Homo sapiens: one gene and its partners. The protein of the gene in region 1 purifies or fractionates together with the protein of each later gene. This does not show direct contact. Each region holds a gene or a part of one and is shown in the gene's direction. Other genes may lie near its edges.

What was found.
Region 2: the proteins of TUBA3C (region 1) and TTC5 purify together in Homo sapiens (affinity purification with mass spectrometry, with the first as the bait; 3 studies listed by BioGRID). This does not show direct contact.
Region 3: the proteins of TUBA3C (region 1) and SLC60A2 purify together in Homo sapiens (affinity purification with mass spectrometry, with the first as the bait; 3 studies listed by BioGRID). This does not show direct contact.
Region 4: the proteins of TUBA3C (region 1) and CCT3 purify together in Homo sapiens (affinity purification with mass spectrometry, with the first as the bait; 3 studies listed by BioGRID). This does not show direct contact.

Annotation. Positions count from the first base shown.
Region 1 is NC_000013.11:19,173,272-19,178,824, reverse strand, and holds the end of TUBA3C (tubulin alpha-3C chain), read left to right. Parts: intron 1-430; coding exon 431-579; intron 580-1,217; coding exon 1,218-1,898; intron 1,899-4,665; coding exon 4,666-4,962; 3' UTR 4,963-5,053; downstream 5,054-5,553. UniProt on the Homo sapiens protein: Tubulin is the major constituent of microtubules, a cylinder consisting of laterally associated linear protofilaments composed of alpha- and beta-tubulin heterodimers.
Region 2 is NC_000014.9:20,295,948-20,303,004, reverse strand, and holds part of TTC5 (tetratricopeptide repeat protein 5), read left to right. Parts: intron 1-1,039; coding exon 1,040-1,172; intron 1,173-2,186; coding exon 2,187-2,398; intron 2,399-3,556; coding exon 3,557-3,707; intron 3,708-4,116; coding exon 4,117-4,208; intron 4,209-6,558; coding exon 6,559-6,615; intron 6,616-7,057. UniProt on the Homo sapiens protein: Cofactor involved in the regulation of various cellular mechanisms such as actin regulation, autophagy, chromatin regulation and DNA repair.
Region 3 is NC_000006.12:111,254,657-111,262,352, forward strand, and holds the start of SLC60A2 (sodium-dependent glucose transporter 1), read left to right. Parts: upstream 1-4,682; 5' UTR 4,683-5,044; coding exon 5,045-5,071; intron 5,072-7,600; coding exon 7,601-7,696. UniProt on the Homo sapiens protein: May function as a sodium-dependent glucose transporter. Potential channels for urea in the inner medulla of kidney.
Region 4 is NC_000001.11:156,321,293-156,328,292, reverse strand, and holds part of CCT3 (T-complex protein 1 subunit gamma), read left to right. Parts: intron 1-3,203; coding exon 3,204-3,321; intron 3,322-7,000. UniProt on the Homo sapiens protein: Component of the chaperonin-containing T-complex (TRiC), a molecular chaperone complex that assists the folding of actin, tubulin and other proteins upon ATP hydrolysis.

The DNA of each region.
Region 1 (5,553 bases):
CACACAGGGTGCCCTGATGGGACTGCCCTGCAGAAGTCACACTGACCTGGTGACTTCTCAGTTTGTAAGCATTTTTAACTTACAGCCTTCGATGTAGCTACATGTAGGAAAGAATTATGTACCTGTAGAATTACCTGTGTGGGGGTGCTGGAGCTTATTTCCCTTCACTGGGAGCTGGTCGTGCTGACATTTATATTGTAAGCTGAGTTTCACTTCCTAGAGTCATAAATCACAGTTTGGTTATCACACATTTGCACTTTGGTTATCACACAGAGACATTTTCTACCAGACACTGCCACTGTTGACCTACAACATGTAGGTCATGTACTTTGAACAGCATGTACTTTGTAGAAGTGAACAGTCCTGGAATGTGTCCATCTTGGTGAGTATAGGCCTTAAAGATTCACAGTACATACGGTCTCTTTTGTAGATGAAGTGCGCACAGGAACCTATAGGCAGCTCTTCCACCCAGAGCAGCTGATCACCGGGAAGGAAGATGCGGCCAATAATTACGCCAGAGGCCATTACACCATCGGCAAGGAGATCGTCGACCTGGTCCTGGACCGGATCCGCAAACTGGTAAGAAGAGAAGGCTTCATGTGACCATTGTCCTGCACAGGAGGGTAGATCTTAGATTGTGAAGGGGAGGTCATTTTGTCAAAACCTAGACCAGTGCGTTGGCTGGGTCTGGTGGCTCACGCCTGTAATCCCAACACTTTGGGAGGCCAAGGTGGGCAGTCACCTGAAGTCAAGAGTTTGAGACCAGCCTGGCCAACGTGGTGAAACCCTGTCTTTACTAAAAATACACACATTAGTCAGGCGTGGTGGTGCCTGCCTGTAGTCCCAGCTACTCAGGAAGCTGAGGCAGGAGAATGGCTTGAGCCCGGGAGGCAGAGGTTGCACTGAGCGGAGTTCATGCCACTGCCCTCCGGCCTGGGCAACAGAGTGAGATTCTATCTAAAAAAAAAAAAAAAAAAACAACTTAGAACAGTATCTTGAGTCCTATTGCGTCTGCAATGGTCTTAGTCTGAAGTATGCATGGTGATTTGTCTGTAGATCTTTGTCTGCTTTTCTTTGCTTCAGAGTGTACTGCGTGTTTATTATGGATGATTGGAATCCATATCAAGTCTTCAGAGGCAGAGAAGTGGCCCTGGCTTGGTGGAGGTTGGTGGTGTGGCTTCCACGGGCATTGATTCATGTTGTCTGGTTTCCCTCAGGCGGATCTGTGCACGGGACTGCAGGGCTTCCTCATCTTCCACAGTTTTGGGGGTGGCACTGGCTCTGGGTTCGCATCTCTGCTCATGGAGCGGCTCTCAGTGGATTACGGCAAGAAGTCCAAGCTAGAATTTGCCATTTACCCAGCCCCCCAGGTCTCCACGGCCGTGGTGGAGCCCTACAACTCCATCCTGACCACCCACACGACCCTGGAACATTCTGACTGTGCCTTCATGGTCGACAATGAAGCCATCTATGACATATGTCGGCGCAACCTGGACATCGAGCGTCCCACGTACACCAACCTCAATCGCCTGATTGGGCAGATCGTGTCCTCCATCACGGCCTCCCTGCGATTTGACGGGGCCCTGAATGTGGACTTGACGGAATTCCAGACCAACCTAGTGCCGTACCCCCGCATCCACTTCCCCCTGGCCACCTACGCCCCGGTCATCTCAGCCGAGAAGGCCTACCACGAGCAGCTGTCCGTGGCTGAGATCACCAATGCCTGCTTCGAGCCAGCCAATCAGATGGTCAAGTGTGACCCTCGCCACGGCAAGTACATGGCCTGCTGCATGTTGTACAGGGGGGATGTGGTCCCGAAAGATGTCAACGCGGCCATCGCCACCATCAAGACCAAGCGCACCATCCAGTTTGTAGATTGGTGCCCAACTGGATTTAAGGTATGACTGGGTAATGTGGAGTCCTTGTACCTTTCAGCAAGCAACAGACACACAGAGTAATGCTGCCCCTGAAGGCCCACATCCTTTGAGGATACTACCCCTATTCCATGGGCTAGGCATGTGGGCATCAATTAGTGAACCAGAGTGATCATTAATTCAGTGATGTCTTTTTTTTTTTTTTTTTTTTTTTTTTTTTTTTTTGAGGCAGAGTCTAGCTTTGTCGCCCAGGCTGGAGTAAAGTGGTGTGATCTCAGCTCACTGCAATCTCCATCAGCCTCCCAAGTAGCTGGAATTACAGGCACCCACCACCACACCCAGTTAATTTTTATATTTTTAGTAGAAACAGGGTTATGCCATGTTGGCCAGGCTGGTCTTGAACTCCTGACCTCAGGTGAGCCACCCACCTTGGCCACCCAAAGTGCTGGGGTTAGAGGCGTGAGCCACTGTGCCTGGCCCAGTGATGTCTTTTGAACTCTTTCTAAGTCATTACACTATGTATCTGTGATGAGCTTTACTTACTTACTTTGTTGTTGAGAAGGCTGGAGTGCAGTGGTGTGATCTCGGTTCACTGCAACCTCTGCTTCCCAGGCTCAAGTGATTCTCTCACCTCAGCCTCCTGAGTAGCTGGGACCACAGACATGCACCACTACACCCAGCTAATTTTTGTGTATTTAGTAAAGGGATTTCACCATGTTGGCCAAGCTGGTCTCAAATTCCTGGTCTTAAGTGATCTGCTTGTCTTAGCCTCCCAAAATGTTGGGATTACGGGCATGAGCCACTGTGCTCAACCCTATTTATTTACTTTTTTGAGACAGAATCCCACCTGTCACCCAGGCTGGAGTGCAGTGTGGTGATCACAGCTCTCCACTAAAAATACAAAAATTGGATGGGCATGGTGGCCCATGCCTATAATCCAGCACTTTGGGAGGCCAAGGCAGGCGGATCACCTGAGGTCAGGAGTTTGACACCAGCCTGGCCAACAGGGCAAAATCCCGTGTCTACTAAAAATACAAAAATTAGCCGGGTATGGTGGCGGGCACCTGTAATCCCAGCTACTGAGGAGGCTGAGGCAGGAGAATCACTGGGACCCAGGAGGTGGAGGTTGCAGTGAGAAGATATCACTCCACTGCACTCCAGCCTGGGTGACAGCACAAGACTCTGTCTCAAAAAAAGAAAAAAAGACAAGATCATACAAATTCTAGGCCTTACAGGTTACACGACCTCTGTCACACCTACCCCACTCTGCTGTCGGATAGCAAAATCAATCTGCAAATGAAGGGGTGTGGTGGCTGTGTTCAGACAAGATCTTACAAAATTAGGTGGCTAGTCCAGCAGCTGTGCTAACCCCTGAAGGAGAAGAAGAGACACCCACAGTAGGAAATCCCAGTCAGAACTGACTGCAGTGGTCTCCCCCAACAGAGACGGTGGGGGTCTGAGCCAGAGGCAGCAGGGAAAGCACAGCACAAGAACGCACAGGCCCAACAGAGAAATGCCACAAGATTTAGTAACCAACTATTGATAAAGCTGAAAGAGGACAGCAAGGTTTCTTTTGTGTCAGTGGAAGGTGGGGACAGATTTTGTGTCTGAGGCAAACCCAGGCCAAAATTACTAGGCTTCCCGGAAAAGAAATAAAGACGTTGCTGCTTTTTGTTTTGTTTTGTTTTGTTTTGTTTTTGAGACGGAGTCTTGCTGTGTCGCCCAGGCTGGAGTGCAGTGGCGTGATCTTGGCTCACTGCAAGCTCCGCCTCCTGGGTTCATGCCATTCTCCCGCCTCAGCCTCCCGAGTAGCTGGGACTACAGGCGCCCGCCACCACACCCGGCTAATTTTGTTTTTGTATTTTTAGTAGAGACCGGGTTTCACCATGTTAGCTAGGATGGTCTCGATCTCCTGACCTCGTGATCTGTCCACCTCGGCCTGCCAAAGTGCTGGGATTACAGGTGTGGGTCACCGTGCCCGGCCTTTTAATTTTTTTGAGACAGGGTCTTGCTCTGTCACCCAAGGAGTGGTAGGATCTCAGCTCATTGGAACCTCTGCCCTCCAGGCTCAAGCAATCCTCCCACCTCAGCCTCCTGAGTAGCTGGGACCACAGGTGCATGACACCATGCCCAGCTAATTTTTTTGTATTTTTGGTAGAGACAGGGTCTTGCCATACTGCCCAGGCTGGTCTCAAACTCAGTTCAAGAAATCCACCTTGGCCTCCCAAAGAGCTGGGATAATGGGTGTGAGCCACTGCACCTGTTGCTGTTTTCATCACAAACAACTCATTCTTTTTTTAAATCAAACCCTACATGAGACAGTGGAACGAATGATGTTGTGAAGCAGTTTATAGTAATGCCCAAGTTAAAATAAAATATATACACCACCTACAAGATTCCCCAAAATGCCCATAAAATTACTAAGTTCAACCTACCTTTTCCACATGAATTCTACCACCCAAGAAAGGGGCACAAAAATCCTTTAGAAAATACCTTATTCTTAAAAAAAAAAAAAAATGCTGGGCATGCTGCCTCATGACTGTAATCCTAGCACTTTGGGAGGCTGGGGTGGGTGGATCGATTGGGCCCAGGAGTTTGAGGCCAGCCTGGGCAACATATGTTGTCTGGAACTGTCACCCTGCCTGGCACAGAGAAGGGCTTAGTGACATTTGTGGGGTGAACTGAGAATTCTCCTGTTCACCTACAGGGTGTCTTCTTTTTGAGGAAAAGCAGCCACCATTTCCAGGTTTGATATAAGCTTCATGGACTGTTTCTTCCTCTTCTCCGGCAGGTGGGCATTAACTACCAGCCCCCCACGGTGGTCCCTGGGGGAGACCTGGCCAAGGTGCAGCGGGCTGTGTGCATGCTGAGCAACACCACGGCCATCGCGGAGGCCTGGGCTCGCCTGGACCATAAGTTCGATCTCATGTATGCCAAGCGGGCCTTTGTGCACTGGTACGTGGGAGAAGGCATGGAGGAGGGGGAGTTCTCTGAGGCCCGCGAGGACCTGGCAGCTCTGGAGAAGGATTATGAAGAGGTGGGCGTGGATTCCGTGGAAGCCGAGGCTGAAGAAGGTGAAGAATACTGAGGGGAGGGTGTGGTGGGTTCTCCACTCCACTGCCACCCCCAGCGTGGCTGCTTTCAAGTTCTTTGCAATTAAAGGTTCTGTATAAAACCAAGACCTCTGTGTATCGTACTGCCTAGCTTTGCCTGCAGGAGCAGGTGGGACCCCCAGAGCCTGCATGGACAGTGGTGGGGTGCCAGCCTGCCCTGCTAGCATGGAGTTGGGTGCAGCGGGATGGTACATACTTAAGGAGCTGCCACAGAAGTAACTTGACACGGAGAAATAGATTTCCTAAATTCTAGGAAAGCACAGTCAGGGTTTTCAACTGAATTTGCAACTTTGGGGGCTTTTCTATTGATGGGTGATGCGAGCTACAAAGAAGAGTCTAGACATGGAGTGTTTAAATCTGAGGTCTGTGGATGGGGCTTGTCCATGAAATCCCTAAAGCTGTGGGTCAAATGTGTAAGGTCAGGACATTTTAGAAGGGAAAGAGTGTTACTGTGTTCTGCACAGCATTCGTGACCCATAGAAGGTTACAACACACCCAGCCTTCCACAGTAACCTGGAAGACAGCATTTGCCCTCCGTGCACACACACGGCCACTCTGCCCCTCAG
Region 2 (7,057 bases), on another chromosome or scaffold:
GGCCAGGATGGTTTCGATCTCTTCATGATCCGTCTGCCTTGGACTACCAAAGTGCTAGGATTACAGGCATGAGCCACCACGCCTGGTGACCCTGTCTTTTAAAAAAGAAAAAAAAAAAATTGTTTCATTTACACTTTATACACATAGGCTGAAAGTAATTTGATACAATATTTTTAATAATTTTGTGCCTGAAACAACGTTTTGACCGCATTTTGACTGTGTGTCAGGTGTGGAATTTTCTACTTGTGGTGTCAGCGTTTCAAAAGTTTCAGATTTTGGAGGATTTCAGATTTTTGCATTAGGGATGCTTGACCTGTAGTAGAAAAGCTTTGCCTGGTGTGACAGGAAGACTCAGAGGCATTTAAGAGGAAAGAGAATATTTATTTGTAAAAAATCCAAGGCAGCCAGAAGATGACTTGACAAAAAAATCAAACTAAACAAAACCACAATAAGCATTTAAAAGAACAAAATGCTGCAAAGATACCAAAGTTACCAAGTTCAAATTGGTATGTTTGTGGTGGAAAACAATGACTCTCTAACATGTTTATTATATTCACAAAGGTTGTGTTGTATTTTCAGATCTCAGCATATGAAAAATCAGGGATAAAATGGTTTTAGTTGAGAAGTCCAACTTTAAGGGTAAATTTCAAAGTGTTATTCTTTGAGGACCAGGACCATATAGAATGATCTTACTAACTTTTGGTTTATCTTAAGTTGCAGTGTTTCCCTCCTCATGACTGTGGTATGTGAAGTGCTTAGTCATATTAGAAGCCCTGCTGAGGCAGGGAGAGAAAATGGTCATCACAATAGAGACACTGGCATGGGACAACATGGGACCATGAGAGCTGGCCTGGGGTACTGGCTGCTTTTCCTCATGATTTGTGGCATTTTAGTAAACCTGTCCACCTGCCTATTGTGCCATTCATAGGTGAGAAAGAGAATTGGTATTTCTAGACCAAGAGCTGGTATGGCTAGCCAATTTCAAGTTTCCCTATCCAGTGATCTTTCCACTTAATGGTTCCATTGTCATACTTTTTAGGAACTCGTGGATCAGCTCTACTCATTTCGAGACTGCTATTTCGAGACACATAGTGTTGAGGATGCTGGGAGGAAGCAACAGGATGTGCAGAAGGAGATGGAGAAAACCCTACAGCAGATGGAAGAAGTAGTGGGTATGAGCCCTAGAGATTGTACAACCCCCATCCTTCAGTGAAATGTGATTGACCTTTGCTCCCTCCTCATTGACTCTTTGGTATCCTATCTGTTACTGCTATAGGGTAGTACAACGTAATACTACTTCTCAGGGCCCCTGTGCAACCTTTCATTCCCTAAGCCACTTTTCCTAAAATTTGATTATAGCAAATGGCATGAAATGAAAGAGCATACTTACTTGAACTATTGCAGTAATCTGACTTTCTGCCTCTAATTTCTTTTACTTTCAAATCCACTTATATAATACCATGGCCATGGCTATCTTTCTAAATCATTACTTCATGCATTTAACCTTATCCTCTCATCTGCCTTTTTGCTCAGGTATCTTTAAAGATTCCTGCTATTGACTAGCTGAAGTCTAACCCCCTTAACCTGGTATTTAAGTGTCCATTGTTTTACTCTGTTTTCTAACCTTATCTCTGACTAATTACTTGTAGAGGAACTTTCTGTTTCATCCAGGTTGAACTGTCTATTCTCCCATGAACATGGCCACATGTACTTCTGATTCTGTGTCTTTGTTTATATCATTTTCTAACCTGGAGGGTCTTTTCTTCTCTCTCTCTGTTTTGTTTTAACGATAACTATTTGTCCTGACTCATCTTCTCTTCACTTGTTAAAGCCCATTCATTGGGCTAATGCCATATGCTCTTTTTCATGGTTTTAATTTTCCATGTTTACGCTTTGTCTTCTCCACTAGATTGTAAACCCCTCTAGGAAAGTTAGCAACCGAGCTGATCCTTGTAGATAGGGGCCCAAGAAACAGATGGCAGAAGCTCTAGAAATAGTGCTTTCTTTGTTGCCTAATTAGCTAACATACACTCTGCCTATGGTGAGCTTTCAATAAATGGTTTATTGATAAATATTTTCCCCAACTCTTTTTATTCCTAAAACTGACGTGTAGTTATTTTTTGAGAGAAAGTGCCCTGGTCTTTAACTTGTTTTTTTCCCACTTTATCTTTTTTTCTTCCTCTTAGGTTCTGTCCAGGGCAAGGCACAAGTTCTAATGCTAACTGGGAAAGCACTAAATGTGACTCCTGACTATAGCCCTAAGGCTGAGGAGCTTCTGTCAAAGGCTGTGAAGCTGGAGCCCGAGCTGGTGGAAGCCTGGAACCAGCTGGGTGAGGTGTACTGGAAAAAAGGGGATGTTGCAGCTGCCCACACCTGCTTCTCAGGAGCCCTCACCCATGTGAGCTGCCCCCTATCCCTTTGGAAAGCAGAGATGGGAAGGATGAATTTCTTTGGTTCTATGAGTTTCCCTAGGACATGAATACCAGAGTAGAACTGAAATTGAACTAGGACAGAATCAGGAGGGAGGAAAGGTCAGAGAGCAGACCTGAATGAGGAAAATAGAGGCAGGGGCCTGGGAAAGGAAGATGATGATGGGATCAGGTTCAGGGGGAGAAAGGAAGTGAAGAAAAGCTAGCAGCTAAGCTGATCCCTGTGGATGGGGGTTGAAGATACAGATGGCAGCAAGAATTTAGATGAAAAAATTAGGGCTGGGTGTGGTAGCTTACACCTGTAATCCTAGCACTTTGAGAGGCCGAGGCAGGAGGATCACTTGAGCTCAGGAGTTTGAGACCAGCCTAGGCAACATGGTGAGACCTTGTCTCTACAAAAAAAAAAAAAAAAAAAAAAAATATATATATATACATGGACCAGACGTGGTGACTCATGCCTGTAATCCCAGCACTTTGGGAGGCCAAAGTGGGGAGATCATTTGAGGTCAGGAGTTCGAGACCAGCCTGGCCAACATGGTGAAACCCTGCCTCTACCAAAAAATACAAAAATTAGATGGGCATGGTTGTATGTGCCTGTAATCCCAGTTACTCAGGAGGCCAAGGCACAAGAATCACTTGAACCCAGGAGGTGGAGGTTGCTGTGAGCTGAGATCGTGCCTCTGCACTCCATCAGAGTGAGACCCTGTCACAAAAAGAAAAATACGGCCAGGCGTGGTGGCTCACACCTGTAATCCCGCGCTTTGGGAGGCTGAGGCAGGCAGATCACTTGAGGTCAGGAGTTCAAGACCAGCCTGGCCAACATGGTGAAACTCAGTCTCTACTAAAAATATAAAAATTAGCCGGGCATGGTGGTGCATACCTGTAGTCCCAGCTACTTGGGAAGCTGAGGCAGGAGAAAGACTTAACTCGGGAGGCAAAGGTTGCAGTGAGCCGAGATCACGCCATTGCACTTCAGCCTGGGTGACAGAGCAAGACTCCACCTCAAACAAAACAAAACAAAAAACTTAGAAAGGTAAAAAATTAGATTTAGAAGACTGAGTTCAGAATAGATCTGGAAAGGGGAGGTAGAATCAGGAAGATTGAGTATGTGCCCTTCCTATTTGCAGTGCAGGAACAAAGTCTCCTTGCAAAACCTGTCAATGGTGCTTCGTCAGCTGCGGACTGACACTGAAGATGAACATTCTCACCATGTCATGGACAGTGTCCGACAGGCTAAGTTGGCTGTTCAGATGGATGTCCATGATGGCCGCTCCTGGTGTGAGTGCTCTCAAAAGATCTCCAACAGGTTTCTAGAGCAGATGTTTTCAATCAGAGCAACATTTGCAGTCCCTCTTTTGAGTGTGATTCTGAGGTTTAAGCCAGAGAGGGCATCTTTGTTTTGAAGACACACGAAAGACATTTTGGGGAACTACTTTTCTAGGAACTCTTCGATCTTTTGATCCTAGTTTTCACGTAAGCAAGGAAGGGCTTTTGTACAGTCTGTTCAAACTTCAGTTTGGTGTCCTTGGTGCTCTATCCTAGTGGAGTTTTGGGTATACTAAGTATCGTGTCATTCCTGGTTTGGATTTCTTGTGGGACCTTTCAAATATACTTTCAAGAATGATCAAAATAAGTCATATCTTGAACTTGGACTCTGAGATGATTTGTCACTGTGTTTCTCTTTCAGATATTCTTGGGAATTCATATCTTTCCCTTTACTTCTCTACTGGCCAGAACCCTAAGATCTCCCAGCAAGCCCTCAGTGCCTATGCCCAAGCAGTAAGTACTTATGGTCACCAGGCCAGATGAATAGGCAACAACAGAAGCAAGAGCATTGTTCAGTCTTCTTTGTGGCCCTTTAGCAAGCATCATGGGCAGTGGCAGTGTTTGCTGGCATCTCATTTTTGTGATTTTGCAAAGATGTGTCTGCAGAGATGACTGACTTCTTATAACTTGAGTGTTAGGAACCACTTGCATCGTGTCGCATTGGTGCTGGATAGCTCCTTGACCTGTCTGGGTTTCTTACACACATATATAACCAAATCACAGAGCTGCCTCAACATGTTCATCTTTTTTAATGGGAAAAAAGTCTATTAAAATAATACTTATTAATATTTTTGTACATTCATTTTAAAGAATAATGAAAACTTATACTTCAGTGTAAATTAAGTGCTATCCCCAAATTAACCGTTAGGTAATATTATGGCTCTGGATTTCCCATGGGCTAAAAGAGAAAACAATGTGTAGCTTGTTCTGTGTCATTTCCTAGGAATTAAGTGAATTAGGTTATTTAGGTTTTCAAGAAATTTATTTAGGTTTTCAAGCATTTTTATGTTGATAGGCATTTGCATAGGGCTTTCCCTCAGACTTTGAGTGCCTTTTTTCTCATTATTAGAATTGGCTTCTGACTTCACATTGGTCCTCTGAGCACTTTTTATTTAGCTCTCATATTTACCTTTCTTCTTTTGCTTCTCTTGATATAGAGAATTGCTTTTTAACTTATCATTACTTATTCTGCTCCCTGTGGTAGAATAAAGAACACAGTTACTGTATGTTCATGTTTGCAATTCAGGGACTGCCCTTTTAAATTGGTTTTTCTCCCCCTCCTGCCACTCTCCCCACAACTCTACCTTTGACTTTAAACTGCCCTTTTTCAATCACGGAACTTTTAGAGCAATTATATTTTACTCTAATTTCTTAATTTGGTGAATGTTTACATTTTAAAGAATAGTGTGGTATATTCCTTCAACATTTTATATTTGGCTTCTGCTAAATAGTCACTTTTTAATCTTTTTTTTTTTTTGAGACGGAGTCTCATTCTGCCACCCAGGCTGGAGTGCAGTGGCACGATCTCGGCTCACTGCAACCTCCGTGTCCCAGGTTCAAGTGAGTCTCCTGCCTCAGTCTCTCAAGTAGCTGGTATTACAGGCACGTGCCACACCATGCCCGCCTAATTTTTGTATTTTTAGTAGAGGCGGGGTTTCACCATGTTGGCCAGGCTGGTCTTGAACTCTTGACCTCAGGTGATCCATCCGCCTCGGTCTCCCAAAGTGTTGGGATTACAAGTGTGAGCCACCGTGCCTGGTCATCTCTTTTTAATCTGAAGTTTTTCGCCCAGACCTGCATTTGTAAACATATCTGAACCAACCATTTAAACAATTTTAATTCATGTTGTTTGTGCTTTTACAATGCGCCAGGTAATGAAGAGAATTAAAAAAATATAATAAGCATAGTCATGAACATAGCCAGCAGTTGCTTCACAGCACATGGTCTGCACTGTCTTGTGGTGTCTGGCCATCTATTTTATCTGTTTAAAAAAAATTCTTTTCCTGGCCATCTATTTTAGTTAGAGTCTGAATTTGGTTTTCTATCTGTGTTTTAAGGGAACTTGGATGTAGAAACATGATTCCGCATGTGTCTGGAGCTAGGTTTATGGGCAGAGGAAATGCATTAAATGAACACCATTTCTATCCTAGCCTTTCTTCATTTATTACCAGCACTTCACTATTTAAATTTTTAAAAATCAAAATGATTTCACCTATTTCATTCATTTATTTATTTTTTTTGAGATGAAGTCTCACTCTGTCACCCAGGCTCGAGTGCAGTGGTGCAATCTCGGCTCACTGCAACCTCCACCTCCCATGTTAAAACAATTCTACCTCAGCCTCCTGAGTAGCTGGAATTACAGGTGCATGCCACCATGCCTAGCTAAGTTTTGTATTTTTAGTAGAGACAGTGTTTCACCAGGTTGGCCAGTCTGGTCTTGAGCTCCTGACCTCAGGTGATCTGCCAGCCTTGGCTTTCCAAAGTGCTGGGATTACAGGTGTGAGCCACTGTGCCCGGCCCACATATTTCATTTATATAAAGATTTATTCTATCTTAATACTACTACATGGATAAATTATAATAATATTTTGAAGTCTCACACATACAAAAACACTTATATCCCTAAGGTTTTGGGACTAAGATATCCACACTGTTATACGGTAACTGCTTCTGTGGTATAAATACCATTTTGGCAAGGAAGAAACTTCCATTTCTCTAGAAAGAGGAGGCGTAGGACATGTTGGGCATGTCAGTCCTTAACATTGAGACAGGATCCACTGATAATCTTTTCATCCCATTATAGGAGAAAGTTGACAGAAAAGCTTCTAGCAATCCTGACCTTCATCTGAACAGGGCGACGGTAAGACCTTTGGGGTGTAGTCATCTGAGGGTCAAATAAATAAGACACCTATGTCTTAGCTTGTGAGGATAACTGAGTTTGCATAGGGACAAGATTGGGTACAGACTGCGAGAGGAAAGCCATGCTATTTCTATAAATAGCTAGCTCGGTTTGGCTTCAGTATCTGGTGTAGTCACTGGAGGGAAAGGAGAAGGGGCTGTGGAGGTGGAAGAATAGGTAGAGAATGGGGGGATCTTTTAGAAGACTTCTGAAATGTTAAGTAAATATAAAGGTCAAGTGAGCCAATATATACAACTTAACTATTTTAGAGTTTGGAAATTAGCTTCTTTGAAATGATTCCATCTTTGGGGTTGTGATCATCTTGGCTAGGAAGAAGGATGTAAGGTGTTACCAGCTCTTCAGGCTGTTTGTTGCAGCACAGGAAAATAACCAGGAAGGAAAA
Region 3 (7,696 bases), on another chromosome or scaffold:
CATGAGTCCGTTTTTGTTCTCATAGCACCTACACTTGCCATGTTCTCACTTTTGGTTGCATTGTTTTTATTTTCTTAATCTCTGATCTTGGTTATTAATAGGACAGTCAGCAAAGATTTTATCTGATCAATACAGCATAGGATACCCGTATGTTGGTAGAGTCAAAGAATGCTGTAGACCTAAATGTTACAGTGAATCCAGTTAAAATTCTACCAGTCTGGGCAACATGGCAAAACCCCATCTCTACAAAAAATACAAAAATTAGCCAGGCATGAGGCACATGCCTGTAGTCCCAGCTACTGGGAGGCTGAGGCCGGAGGATTGATTGAGCCCCGGAGGTCGAGGCTGCAGTAAGCTATGATCATGTCACTGCACTCCAGCCTGGGTGACTGATCAAGACTGTCAAAAAAAAAAAAAAAAAAAAGAGAGAGGGAGAGAAATGTAGGGGTGGGTTGCCCCTCCACACCTGTGGGTGTTTCTCGTAAGGTGGAACGAGAGACTTAAGAAAGAAAAAGACACAGAGACAATGTATAGAGAAAGAAATAAGGGGACCCGGGGAACCAGCGTTCAGCATTATGGAGGATCCCGCCAGCCTCTGAGTTCCCTTAGTATTTATTGATCATTCGTGGGTGTTTCTCCGAGAGGGGGATGTGTCAGGGTCACAAGACAATTGTCGGGAGAGGGTCAGCAGACAAACACGTGAACAAAGGTCTTTGCATCGTAGACAATGTAAAGGATTAAGTGCTGTGCTTTTAGATATGCATACACATAAACATCTCAATGCTTTACAAAGCAGTATTGCTGCCCGCAGTTCCCACCTCCAGCCCTAAGGCGGTTTTTCCCTATCTCAGTAGACGGAACATACAATCGGGTTTTATACCGAGACATTCCATTGCCCAGGGACAGGCAGGAGACAGATGCCTTCCTCTTGTCTCAACTGCAAGAGGCATGCCTTCCTCTTATACTAATCCTCCTCAGCACAGACCCTTTACGGGTGTCGGGCTGGGGTCTTTCCCTTCCCACGAGGCCATATTTCAGACTATCACATGGGGAGAAACCTTGGACAATACCTGGCTTTCCTAGGCAGAGGTCCCTGCGGCCTTCCGCAGTTTTTGTGTCCCTGGGTACTTGAGATTAGGGAGTGGTGATGACTCTCAAGGAGCGTGCTGCCTTCAAGCATCTGTTTAACAAAGCACATCTTGCACCGACCTTAATCCATTTAACTCTGAGTTGACACAGCACATGTTTCAGAGAGCACGGGGTTGGGGGTAAGGTTATAGATTAACAGAATCTCAAGGCAGAAGAATTTTTCTTAGTACAGAACAAAATGGAGTCTCCTATGTCTACTTCTTTCTACACAGACACAGTAACAATCTGATCTCTCTTGCTTTTCCCCACAGAGAAAGAAGAAAGGAAGAAAGAATAAAGAAAGAAAGAAGAAAATTTTAAGTTTATACCTTTTAAAAAAGGAAACTTAAAAATCAGTAAGTTTTAATTTTTAATAAGATAAATAATTTATTCTATCAAACATCACCAATGTCAGATCATTTCAACATTATTTCTAACTTTTCAAAGTACATAGCATAAACCATAAAAGTTGTCTAACTGAAATTAAATCTTCGTGAGAGATAGTTTTAATAGACTGGGTTTTTAGCAGTGAAGTTAAAGAATGATAGTTTAGTATACAGAAAGAAACAGTTATGGTGACACTTAGTTCTTCATGATGCACTGTAAGCACAAATTGGACATCACATGATAAGTAAAAAGGATGGTCCTTCTGGCAAATAAAAATTAAATAGGTCCTCACAGTGATATGCAGTCTCCAAACATGATCTGTCTAATTTCTCTCTCTCACCCAAAGTAAAAAGTTAAGTTGAAAGATTAAAACCTGCCTTCTTGTTACTATTTCACAAATACACCCAGATAGTACCAGATTAGTGACTAAAATCCAGATATTTTCCTTTTAGATAAATTAAGCCATATACATTGTAAAATACTTATTTTTTAAGAGAATCAATAAAGCTATATTTATTTTCAGTAGAAAATGTGGCTCATAGACACTTTATTTCTCTGAAATTGCCTCTCAAGAAAAAACTTGATCCTCACTATTGATCTAAGAGAAATCTGCATGAAGCAATGCTGTAGTTTATGCTTTTTTTTTTTTTTTTTTTTTTCTCAAAGGTGGTGGGTGACCTCTGGAGGCAACTGGAAAAAATATACTGCTGCTTTCAAGAGTGAAGTGGGGAATGAAGAATCAGAAAGTAGATCTTTCCATTTAGAGAAGGCTTTTTCTTTTTTTTTTTTTTACATTTAATCAGGGTGAATTAAAATATTTAATTTAAAAATGGCTTTACTGAACCTCAATTCAGTTAGGTAATTAATCAATTCAGTTAGGTAATAGCTACTAAGTATGTAATACAATGTTAGGGGAGAGACATATAACATCCATAGTTTCAATCTCATTGAGTTTATAATCTACTAAGGAACTGAAGATAAGTGCTAAAAGAACTGTAACACGAGGTAAAACCTGTGACAAGATTTAGGAGCAGCACAACTATATAGTTGTGAAACTAAACCAGCCTCAAGGCTGAAAGGCAGGTGAGAAAAGACTACCTACCAAAGTAGGTTTTGTTTGTTTGTTTGTTTGTTTGTTTGTTTTAACATGGATTCTCCAAAGATAGGTAGAAAAGTCCTGGTTTGGCGTCATTAGTCTACTTCAGCCCCTCTCTCACTGATTACGACTGAAAGACTCATGACAAAATACAAATGGCAACTACCTGCCGCCTCTGAAAAGTAAATAAAGAATTGAGGTAGGGAGTCAAAACTTAGAAACCTGCAAGGGGATGAATTTCCTGGCTTTTTTCTTCTTTTCTTGTGGTTTGTCCTGAGGAGAGACCCCAGCTGGGAACTGTTGGGTGGCATGGGTAGCTAAAACTCGAATAGAAATCTCATCTTTCTGTGCTGAAAGGAAATAACGGTTAGCCCAGAACTCTATTTTCAGTGAAAATATTTTCAGGAATCAAAGTGAAATAAAGACATTCTCATATGAAGGAATGCCAGCTGACCTGCTCTAAAATAAATGCTTGGCGGGCCGGGCGCGGTGGCCCACGCCTGTAATCCCAGCACTTTGGGAGGCCGAGGCGGTCGGATCATGAGGTCAGGAGTTCGAGACCAGCCTGACCAACATGGTGAAACCCCGTCTCTACTAAATAAAAAAATTAGCCGTGCGTGGTGGCACGCGCCTGTAATCCCGGCTACTCAGGAGGCTGACGCAGGAGAATCGCTTGAACCTAGGAGGCAGAGGTTGCAGTGAGCCGAGATCGCACCATTGCACTCCAGCCTGGGCGACAGAGCGAGATTCCGTCTCAAATAAATAAATAAATAAATAAATAAATAAATAAATAAATAAATAAAAAAGAAATGCTTGGCGGGGCATGGTGGCTCATACCTGTAATCTCAGCACTTTGGAAGGCCAAAGGCAGGCGAATCACTTGAGGTCAGGAGTTCGAGACCAGCCTGGCCGACATGGTGAAAACTCGTCTCTACCAAAAAGCGCCACAACACTCCAGCCCGGGCGACATAGGCTCTGTCTCAAAAAAGAAAACAAACAAACAAAAAAAAAAGTGGGGGTGCGGGTGGGGGGAAGACTTAATGACTAAACGAATAAGTCTGGAGAGACGGGTTGCAAGGGATGATGAGACTAAGGTTTGTAGTCTGGGAGCCTAAGTGGATGAAAGTTGGAAGAATCAGGTGGAAAAGAACATTTCAAATAGACCACAAAGAAAAGTATATAACATTTTGAGGCTGTGGTACGCTTTGTTAAAGAGCAAAAGGAAAACAATTCCTCAAATCAGGGGGGAGGGATAGCATTAGGAGATATACCTAATGTTAAATGACGAGTTAATGGGTGCAGCACACCAACATGGCACATGTATACATATGTAACTAACCTGCACGTTGTGCACATGTACCCTAAAACTTAAAGTATATAAAAAAAATTCCTCAAATCGATGCCACGCTCCACTTCTTTACAACGATGGAATTATTTCAGGAATTGGAATTATTTCAGGAATTGTGTTTGAAACCACAGCTTTGGATCCCGATTTCTTTCTTGAGCTACTGTTACACTGTTTATATACGGCCACTAATTCGATGACTGAGCTTGGGCAGATTGTTAATTATTTTCTATGACTTAATCTTTCTATCTGTACAACGGGGATAACGTGGAATTTGGAGTGTTGTGAGGGTTGAGATAATATACGTGATAACTTACACAATGACGTTCAACAAATACTTGTGGAGTGAAAGATGCGCGATTCATTGACAGATCTCAGGGATTTCAGAAAGCTGTATAAGGACCAGCTCTTCAGGCTCCCTTCGCTCCCCAGGAGACCGGGGAGCCGGCGCGAGGCGCTACAGTGTAATTCTTGGCCCCTTTTCCTCATAATGGTTTGGCCGCATTTTTACCTCTTGATTTCCCTGGTCCCAGGCTGCAACTTCAGCTCGCTCCGCCATGGGGCGCACGTCCGCCAGCCTCTGTGAGCTCAGCTAAGTATGATGCCTAGGCTAGAGAGCTACGTCCGGTCTCCTAGGCAACCATATCAACTTCCGGCTTGAGGCACGATAGCGGTTGGCGAGAGGCCACATTTCCGCCACGTGACCCGCGCATGCGCCTGCTTGCTGGAGAGCGAGCGTCTTTTGCCACGAACACCTGCGGCGTGCCGAAGTTCCTCTTCTCTGCCCCGGTTCCGGGCGGTCCGCTGGGAGGTGGCGCCCGGAGGGACACCCGTGCCTGGGGTCGGGGCCAGTGCTCTTCTCGGAGCTCCAGAAGTTCTGCTGAGAAGCGCGGCGGCAGCAAGACGACTTCTCCGGAGCCGCCGAGCTGGAGTTAGAGGTGGAGCTCCGTGGGGCCGGGCCCCCGGCTGCGGGGCAGCGGCTCCTGCAGGCGGAGGCCCCGGCGGAGAATGAGCCGGAGCCGGAGGTGGTGGTGGTCTCCTGGCAGAGCGGTGGGACCGGGAGCAAGCTGCGGTGGTTCACCACCTTGATGCTGTGTGCCTCCTTCCTGGGGCTGGTGAGAGCCGGGGCTGCAACACTCCCAGGCCGGGGCGTTCGAGTCTTGCCTTCGCCACTTGCAAACTGACCTTGGGCGCGTTACCTAATCTGACTGGGCCTCAGTTTCATCATCTAGAAAATGGGCACAATTCTAATCTTGGAGGAAATAGATTTTCTGAATACGTCTTTCAGCTCCAGCAAGCTTTTTTTTTTTTTTTTTTTGACGGAGTCTCGCTCTGTTGCCCAGGCTGGAGTGCAGTGGTGCGATCTCGGCTCACTGCAACCTCTGCCCCCAGGGTTCAAGCGATTCTCCTGCGTCAGCCTCCCGAGTAGCTGGGATTACAGGCGCCTGCCACTAAGCCCGGCTAATTTTTGTATTTTTAGTAGAGACGGGGCTTCGCCATGTTGGCCAGGCTGGTTTCAAACTCCTGACCTCAGGTGATCCGCCCACCTCGGCCTCCCAAAGTATTGGGATTACCGGCGTGAGCCACGGCGCCCGGCCCGGCAAGCCTTCCTACGTCTCCTTCGTCGGATGGGAAGGTTGCAAGAGGGGTTCACCAGGTCTTTGGCCGCTGCTCTCCGCACCCACCCACTCAACCCCCAAATTATTACACAGAAAAACTACTTTTCTGGAATTTCTTCCTGGTGATCTGACCAAATTCAGCCAACCGCTTAATTTTGCAGATAAGGAAATAGGCCCGGAGGGGAAAGTGACTTTCTGGATCACACAGCTGGTTAAGTGATAGAGCCAGAAATATGTCTTTTACTCTGCCCACCATCCTATTTATTAATAAAACCAACCTTTAGATTCTTAAATGTTTTTCTTGGAGCAAAGGGCAAGCCTAGAGGCGCCTTTTGCCAAACCCCTGGGTCGCCACTCAATTCACTTTTCGGAAACCTCCTCCTTATCACTTGATAATTATGATCCTGGGGGAGTTGAGAGGATGAGTCCTCCCAAGAGTCATGTGTGGTCACTTACCATCTCAGGGACTCTGAGCCACAGTTGTTTCTTAGAGTATTTTGATTGGGGGCGGTGGGGAGGGGTGAAGAAAGAAATCACTTCAGACTTTTGGTGAGTCGTCACTGACTTGTCCGGTCCTGTTGTAAATCCTTTGAAGACATGAACTAATTTGATTAGATTCTGTGCTCAGGCTTCTCTCGAAGTACGAGGTGCTTGCTGTGCACCTGGGCCCATAGTGGTCCGTGGTCTTGGACTGTTACGAGTTGGGCAGGGGGCGCACCCCATGCATTTAGAGCAGAGCAGGGCAATTAGAATCAGTTATTCTGGAAATGTAGACTGATTGGAAACATTTTTTTCTTTAAATGTCCAATGAATTTCCTCTGAAAGTCAATTGTAATCCTTACCTCTTGCTGACACTGCATTGAGTAAAGTTTTATTGTTAAAGTCATTCTGTACTTGGGCGTGTAATATTTTTTAAGCAACCTTTACTGACTAATTCTGATGGCGTGGAAGAAAAGTGTAGATTTAGAAACATTTAAATTGTTTATCTCCTGTATGTTTTATATGTATAGTTCAGGGGAAGGACTCCATGTGCATCCAGAAATATTGCTGTTTAACAACATAAAAAACAGGAATCATATTTTGATGTTTTGATCAAGGTTTTGACGTTTTCCAGTGGCTCAGTCAGAACTCACTACAGTCTCGACCTCAGGGCTTAAGCGATCCTTCCATCTCAGCCTCCCTAGTAACTGGGACTACAGGCATGCGCCACCACGCCTGGCTGATTTTTTTCATTTTTATTTTTGTAGAGATGGGGTTGCCTAGGTTGATCTCAAAACCCTGAGCTCAAGCAGTCCTACCATCTCTCCCTTCCAGATTGCTGGGATTACAGGTGTAAGCAACCACACCTGACTTAATTTAATTAATTAATTTATTCTTTCTGAGACAGAGTCTCGCTCTGTCGCCCAGGCTGGAGTGCAATGGTGCAGTCTCGGCTCACTGCAACCTCCGCATCCCGTGTTCAAGCGATTCTCCTGCCTCAGCCTCCCGAGTAGCTGGGACTACAGGCGCCCACCACCATGCCCAGCTAATTTTTGTATTTTTAGTAGAGATGGGGTTTCACTGTGTTGGCCACGCTGGTCTCAAACTCCTGACCTCGTGATCCGCCTGCTTCGGCCTCCCAAAGTGCTGAGATTACAGGCGTGAGCTACTGTGCCCGGCCAATTTAAATTTTTAATACCCAAATTCTTATTTGTGCATGTAATATATTTCAAAATGTACGAAACCATTTCAAAAATAGTTTTAATATTACATTTTATTAATACAGAATAGTCTTTTAAAGGTATTGTTCAGAAAGGAAACAGGATTGCAACAAAAAAATAATTTTTTAAAAACTGAGAGGTGTCAAAACAAAAAAAAAATAAGAGTTTTAGTCAAAACTAAAAAAACAGTAGTCTAATTCCCTACATTACATTGTAAATCCCAGACCCTCCGCCCCCCTTTTTTTTTATAGTGGAAGAAACTACCACATAGTTAGACATTATTTTAATGATTATAAGTAAAAACTTTTGTCTTTTTAAATTTTAGGGATTGAGTGTTGCTATAGTGGGACCCACGTTTCAAGATTTGGCAACAAACGTGAACCGAAATATCAGTAGTCTGTCTTTCATTTTTGTGGGTCGT
Region 4 (7,000 bases), on another chromosome or scaffold:
GCAGAAGCGCCCCTCACCTCCCGGATGGGGCGGCTGGCCGGGCCGGGGGCTGACCCCCCTACCTCCCTCCCGGACGGGGGGACTGACCCCCCCCACCTCCCTCCCGGACGGGGCGGCTGGCTGGGCAGAGGGGCTCCTCACTTCCCAGTAGGGGTGGCCAGGCAGAGGCGCCCCTCACCTCCCGGACGGGGCGGCTGGCTGGGCGGGGGGCTGACCCCCCCACCTCCCTGCCAGATGGGGCGGCTGGACCCCCACCTCCCTCCCGGACGGGGTGGCTGCCGGACGGAGGGGCTCCTCACTTCTCAGACAGGGCGGTTGCCAGGCAGAGGGTCTCCTCACCTCCCAGACGGGGTCGCGGCTGGGCAGAGGCGCTCCTCACATCCCAGACGGGGCGGTGGGGCAGAGGTGCTCCCCACATCCCAGACGATGGGCGGCCGGGCAGAGACGCTCCTCACTTCCTAGATGGGATGGCGGCCGGGCAGAGAAGCTCCTCACTTTCCAGACTGGGCAGCCAGGCAGAGGGGCTCCTCACATCCCAGACGATGGGCGGCCAGGCAGAGACGCTCCTCACTTCCCAGACGGGGTGGCGGCCGGGCAGAGGCTGCAATCTCGGCTCTTTGGGAGGCCAAGGCAGGCGGCTGGGAGGTGGTTGTAGCGAGCCGAGATCACGCCACTGCACTCCAGCCTGGGCACCATTGAGCACTGAGTGAACGAGACTCCGTCTGCAATCCCGGCACCTCGGGAGGCCGGGGCTGGCGGATCACTCGCGGTTAGGAGCTGGAGACCAGCCCGGCCAACACAGCGAAACCCCGTCTCCACCAAAAAAATACGAAAACCAGTCAGGCGTGGCGGCGCGCGCCTGCAATCGCAGGCACTCGGCAGGCTGAGGCAGGAGAATCAGGCAGGGAGGTTGCAGTGAGCCGAGATGGCAGTAGTACAGTCCAGCTTCAGCTCGGCATCAGAGGGAGACCGTGGAAAGAGAGGGAGAGGGAGACCGTGGAGAGGGAGAGGGGAGAGGGGAGAGGCGAGAGGCTATGTACATTTTTAAAAGCTTATTTTACCTGCCAGTAAGCAGGTAGTACAAGCAATTTGTGCAAAAGGCTTTTGACAAAAAGAATATTTACAATACTCTCTTTATACTTTTTCTAGAAACAAGCTTTTTTGTGTGTGGGTTTGCATCTATGTATATGTTATTTTGTGTGTGTCTATTAGAAAGTAAAGACAAATTTTATTTGTTTATTTATTTTGAGACAGAGTCTCACTCTATCACCCAGGCTGGGGTGCCTGGGCACAGTCTCCACTCACTGCAACCTCTGCCTCTCAGGTTCAAGCAATTCTTGTGCCTCAGCCTCCCAACTAGCTGGGATTACAGACACCCACCAACACACCTGGCTAATTTTTGTATTTTTGGTAGAGACAGTTTCACCATGTTGTCCAGGCTAGTCTCAAAACTCCTGGTCTCAAGCGATTTGCCTGCCTCGGCTTCCCAAAGTGCTGGGATTACAAGGTGTGAGCCACCATTCCCAGCCAGAAAGTAAAGACAAATTTTAAAAGAAGGAGATGTTTTACCAATAATCCCTTATCCAGAGGGTAAATTGTGTACATTTTCTTTTTTTTTTCTTTTTCTTTTTTTTTTTTTTTTTGAGATGGAGTCTCACTCTGTGGCTTAGGCTGGAGTGCAATGGCACGATCTTGGCTCACCACAACCTCCGCCTCCCTGGTTCAAGCGATTCTCCTGCCTCAGCCTCCCGAGTAGCTAGGAATACAGGCATGTGCCATCATGCCTGGCTAATTTTTGTATTTTTAGTAGAGATGGTTTCACCATGTTGGCCAGGCTGGTCATGAACTCCTGACCTCAGGTAATCCATCTGCCTTGGCCTCCCAAAGTGCTAGGATTACAGATGTGAGCCACCACACCCAGCCTTAATTGTGCACATTTTCTAATTTTAATTTTTTATTTTTTTGAAACAGAATCTTGCTCTATTGCCCAGGCTGGAGTGCAATAGTGTGATCACGGCTCACTGCAGCCTTGACCTTCTGGGCTCAATGAGTCCTCCCAGCCCAGGTTCCCAAGTAGCTACAGGCACATGCCACCATACCTGGCTAATTTTTGAATTTTTTCGTAGAGACAGGGTTTTGCTATGTTTCTCAGGCTGGTCTAAAAATTCCAGAGCTCAGGTGATCTGCTCACCCTAGCCTCCCAAAGTGCTGGGATTACAGGTGTGAGCTACCGCATCCAGCCCTGAATATTCTTTCAGAGGTAGGGTTTTGTGTGTTTTGTTTTTAGTTCAAGCAGTTTGACTACATCCTAAGGTATAAAGGTACTAATAAACAAGTCAGTTTTTCTTTTGTGCATTTTTCTTTATTTTAGAGCCTTCAGGGAAATTTTTTTTTAGAAAGATCAAGAGAAGGCCAGGCGTGGTAGCTTACGCCTGTAATCCCAGCACTTTGGGTGGCCGAGGTGGACAGATCACCTGAGGTCACGAGTTCGAGACCAGCCTGGCCAACCAACATAGTAAAACCCGTCTCTACTAATAAAGTACAAAAGTTAGCTGGGTGTGGTGATGCATGCATGTAATCCCAGCTACTTGGGAGGCCGAGGTGGGAAAATCGCTTGAATCTGGGAGGCGGAGGTTGCAGTGAGCAGAGATTGCGCCACCGCACTCCAGCCTGGGCGACACAGCGAGACTGCTTCTCAAAAAAAAAAAAAAAAAATCAAAAGAATAAGTAAGCCCTAGAATCAGTCTTTCATCATTTTATTTTTTGAGATAGGGTCTCACTCTGTCACCCAGATTGGAGTGCAATGGTGCGGTCATGGCTCATTGCACCCTCAACCTCCTGGGCTCAAGTGATCCTCTTAACCTCAGCCTCCTGAGTAGCTGGGACTGCAGGCTCATACCACCACACTAAGCTAAATTTTAAATTTTTTTGTAAAGACAGGGTCTCACTGTGTTGCCCAGGCTGATCTTGAATTTCTGGGATTACAGGTATGAGCCACCATGCCTAGCCTGGGCAACAAGGATGTTTTCTGTATAAATTGCCGTCTTATACAATGTGTAGAATTTGGAATAGTATGAATGGCCAAATGTCATACCTTTTGGGAGAGTCTGATTTAGGAGAGTATTTTTTGGAAGAATAATTAAGTTACTTGCCTTGATATCCAGATGCTTTAAATATTACTATGGTGCTTGTATCTTTTTCAGCAGGGGAAATGCTGTCTGTAGCTGAGCACTTCCTGGAGCAGCAGATGCACCCAACAGTGGTGATCAGTGCTTACCGCAAGGCATTGGATGATATGATCAGCACCCTAAAGAAAATAAGGTATCTTGGGGGCAAGAAATAGGTAGTATCAAATATGAGAGGCCTGGCTAGACGTGGTGGCTCATGGCTGTCATCCCAGCACTTTGGGAGGCCTAGGCGGGTGGATCTTGAGGTCAGGAGATGGAAACCATCCTGGCCAACATGGTGAAACCTCGTCTGTACTAAAAATACAAAAAATTAGTTGGGCATGGTGGCGCATGCGTGTCGTCCCAGCTACTTGGGAGGCTGAGGCAGGAGAATTGCCTGAACCAGGGAGTCAGAGGTTGCAGTGAGCTGAGATGGCCCCACTGTGCTCCAGCCTGGTGACAGAGCAAGACTCCGTCTCAAAAAAAATCAGCTGGGTATGGTGGCGCACACCTGTAATGCCAGCTACTCAGGAGGATGAGGCAGAAAAATTGCTTGAAACCAGGGGGCGGAGATTGCAGTGAGCCAAGATCTCTCCACTGCACTCCAACCTGAGCAACAAGAGCGAAACTCCCATCTCAGAAGAAAAAAAAGAAAAGCATATATTACCTCTAGCTTCAGGGAATTTTAGTTAAGGTTTAACATCACGTAGAGTCATGTAGAGCAGTGTCTTGAATAAAAATTTTTGTTTAAAAAGTAAAACCTGGCAGGGCTCGGTGGCTCACGCCTGTAATCCCATCACTTTGGCCCAGGTGGGTGGATCACGAGGTCAGGAGTTAGAGACCAGCCTGGCCAACATGGTGAAACCTCGTCTCTACTAAAAGTACAGAAAATTAGCTGGGCATGGTGGCAGGCGCCTGTAATCCCAGCTATTCAGGAGGCTGAGGCAGGAGAATCGCTTGGACCCGGGAGGCGAAGGTTTCAGTGAGCCGAGATTGTGCCACTGCACTCCAGCCTGGGTGACAGAGTGAGACTCTGTCTCAAAAAAATAAAAAGTAAGACTTGGGCTGGGCATGGTGGCTCACACCTGTAATCCTAGCACTTTGGGAGGCCAAGGCGGGTGGATCACCTGAGGTCAGGAGTTCAAGACCAGCCTGGCCAAGATGGTGAAACCTCATTTCTACTAAAAATGCAAAAATTAGCCAGGTGTGGTTGCATGCGCCTGTAATCCCAGCTACTCGGGGGGCTGAAGCAGGAGAATCACTTGAACCCGGGAGGCGGAGTTTGTGGTGAGCCAGGATCGCACCATTGCACTCCAGCCTGGGCGAACAACAAAACTCCATCTCAAAAAAAATAAAAATAGGGCTGGGTGCGGTGGCTCACGTCTGTAATCCCAGCACTTTGGGAGGCGGAGGCGGGCGGATCACGAGGTCAGGAGATTGAGACCATCCTGGCTAACATGGTGAAACCCCATCTCTACTAAAAATACAAAAAAATAAGCCGGGCGTGGTGGCAGGTGCCTATAGTCCCAGCTACTTGGGAGGCTGAGGCAGGAGAATGGCATGAACCCGGGAGGCAGAGCTTGCAGTGAGCAGAGATTGCACCACTGCACTCCAGGCTGGGCGACAGAGCGAGACTCCATCTCAAAAATAAATAAATAAAAATAAAAATGTATATTTTTTCCACGCCCAACTGGAAATAGTTTTTTTTTTCTTTATTTAAATATTCTACTCATATGGTTGAGTCACTAGATGCATAAGTGTTTAGTAATTTGGTGAGGTTTATATTATACTGCCTGCTCTTTTTTTTTTTTCTTGAGACGGAGTTTTTGTACTTGTTGCCCAGTCTGGAGTGCAATGAATGGCGCGATCTCGGCTCACTGCAACCTCCACCTCCCAGGTTCAAGTGATTATCCTGCCTCAGACTCTCGAGTAGCTGGGATTACAGGCATGTGCATCCACATCCGGCTAATTTTGTATTTTTAGTAGAGACAGGGTTTCTCCATGTTGGTCAGGCTGGTCTCAAACTTTCAACCTCAGGTGATCCACCCACCTTGACCTCCCGAAGTGCTGGGATTACAGGCGTGAGCCACCGCGCCTGGCCATATACTGCCTGCTCTTAAACAAGTTGTACATTAATATCTTTGTCTGGCACACTTAAGAATGAGGTGTTTGATCTAATTATTTTTATGCAGTAAGCTCTGTGAGAATGTAGAGGTACCCAAAGGTTTTATTGTGTGGAGCTTCACGCTTAGAAAGCCTTTTTTTTGAGACGGAGTTTCACTCTTGTTGCTCAGGCTGGAATGCAATAGCTGGATCTCAGCTCACTACAACCTCTGCTCCCTGGCTTCAAGCAGTTTTCCTGCCTCAGCCTCCCGAGTAGCTGGGATTATAGGCATGTGCCACTACGCCTGGCTAATTTTGTATTTTTAGTAGAGACGGAGTTTTTCTCCACATTGGTCAGGCTGGTCTCAAACTCCCGACCTCAGGTGATCCGCCTGCCTCGGCCTCCCAAGGTGCTGGGATTACAGGCGTGAGCCACCGTGCCTGGCCTGAAATATTTTTTTTTTTTAATCAAGTAATAACTGCCTACCTAGAACACTTTAATCTTATTAAAAAAATTTTTTTGGGGTGGCGGGGGGTCTCGCTCTGTTTTCCAGGCTGGAGTGTGCAGTGGCATGATCTCGGCTCACTGCAACCTCCGCCTCTTCGGTTCAAGCAATTCTGTCTCAGCCTCCCAAGTAGCTGGGACTACAGGCGCATACCACCACACCTAGCTAATTTTGGTATTTTTAGTAGAGATGGGGTTTCACCATATTGGTGAAGCTGGTCTCAAACTCCTGACCTCAGGTGATCCTACCACCTCGGCCTCCCAAAAAAATTATTTTTTAGAGATATGGTCTCACTCTGTTGCCTAAGCTGGAGTGCGGTGGTGCAGTCACAGCTTACTGCAGCTTCCAGCTCCTGGGCTCAAGCAATCCTGCCCCAGCTTCCCAAGTAGCTAGGACTATAGGTATGTCCACCACGCCCTGCTAAATTTTTCATAGAGATGAGGTTTTGCTATGTTGCCCAGGTTGGTTTTTAACTCTGGGCTTCCAGCTATCCTCAGTCTTCCAAAGTGTTGGGTTTACAGGCGTGAAGCATGGCACCCAGCCCCCTTTATCTTAGATACCATTTTTGGAGTCATTGCTTCTTCCCAAAAGTCCATAATTCAACCATTTAATAATTGGTATATTATGTGCCTTTCACTGTTAAAAGAGGGATTTTGTTTATTTTGGGGTTTTTTTGAGACGGAATCTCACTCTGTCACCCAGGCTGTCGTGCAGTGACATGATCTCAGGTCACTGCAACCTCTGCCTCTGGAGTAACTGGGACTACAGGCACATGCCACCACTCCTGGCTAATTTTTGTATTTTTAATAGAGATGGGGTTTCACCATATTGGCCAGGCTGGTCTCGAACTCCTGACCTCAAGTGATCTGCCCGCCTTGGCCTCCCAAAGTGCTGGGATTACAGGCGTGAGCCACCGTGCACAGCCAAAAAAGAGATTTTAGCATTATGTGAAAATATCTTGTGAGGAGTGAAAGTAATATAAAAATGGTAAATACATAAAATGTGTTTACAGTAACATAAAAACACAAAGATGACCAGTTGGTGGTCATCTTTGACCACTGTGACACACCATGAGCTAAAAATAAAATTTGCTGTTCAAATGAATGATTTGATAAAACTCTTAAAGTTGGCTAGTTATGGGATAAAGTTTCATAAAAAAAAATGTGTCTTGACCTGAGTTGTAAAAGTTGAAAAGTTTACTTGGTTGAAGCAGAAGATAAGGAA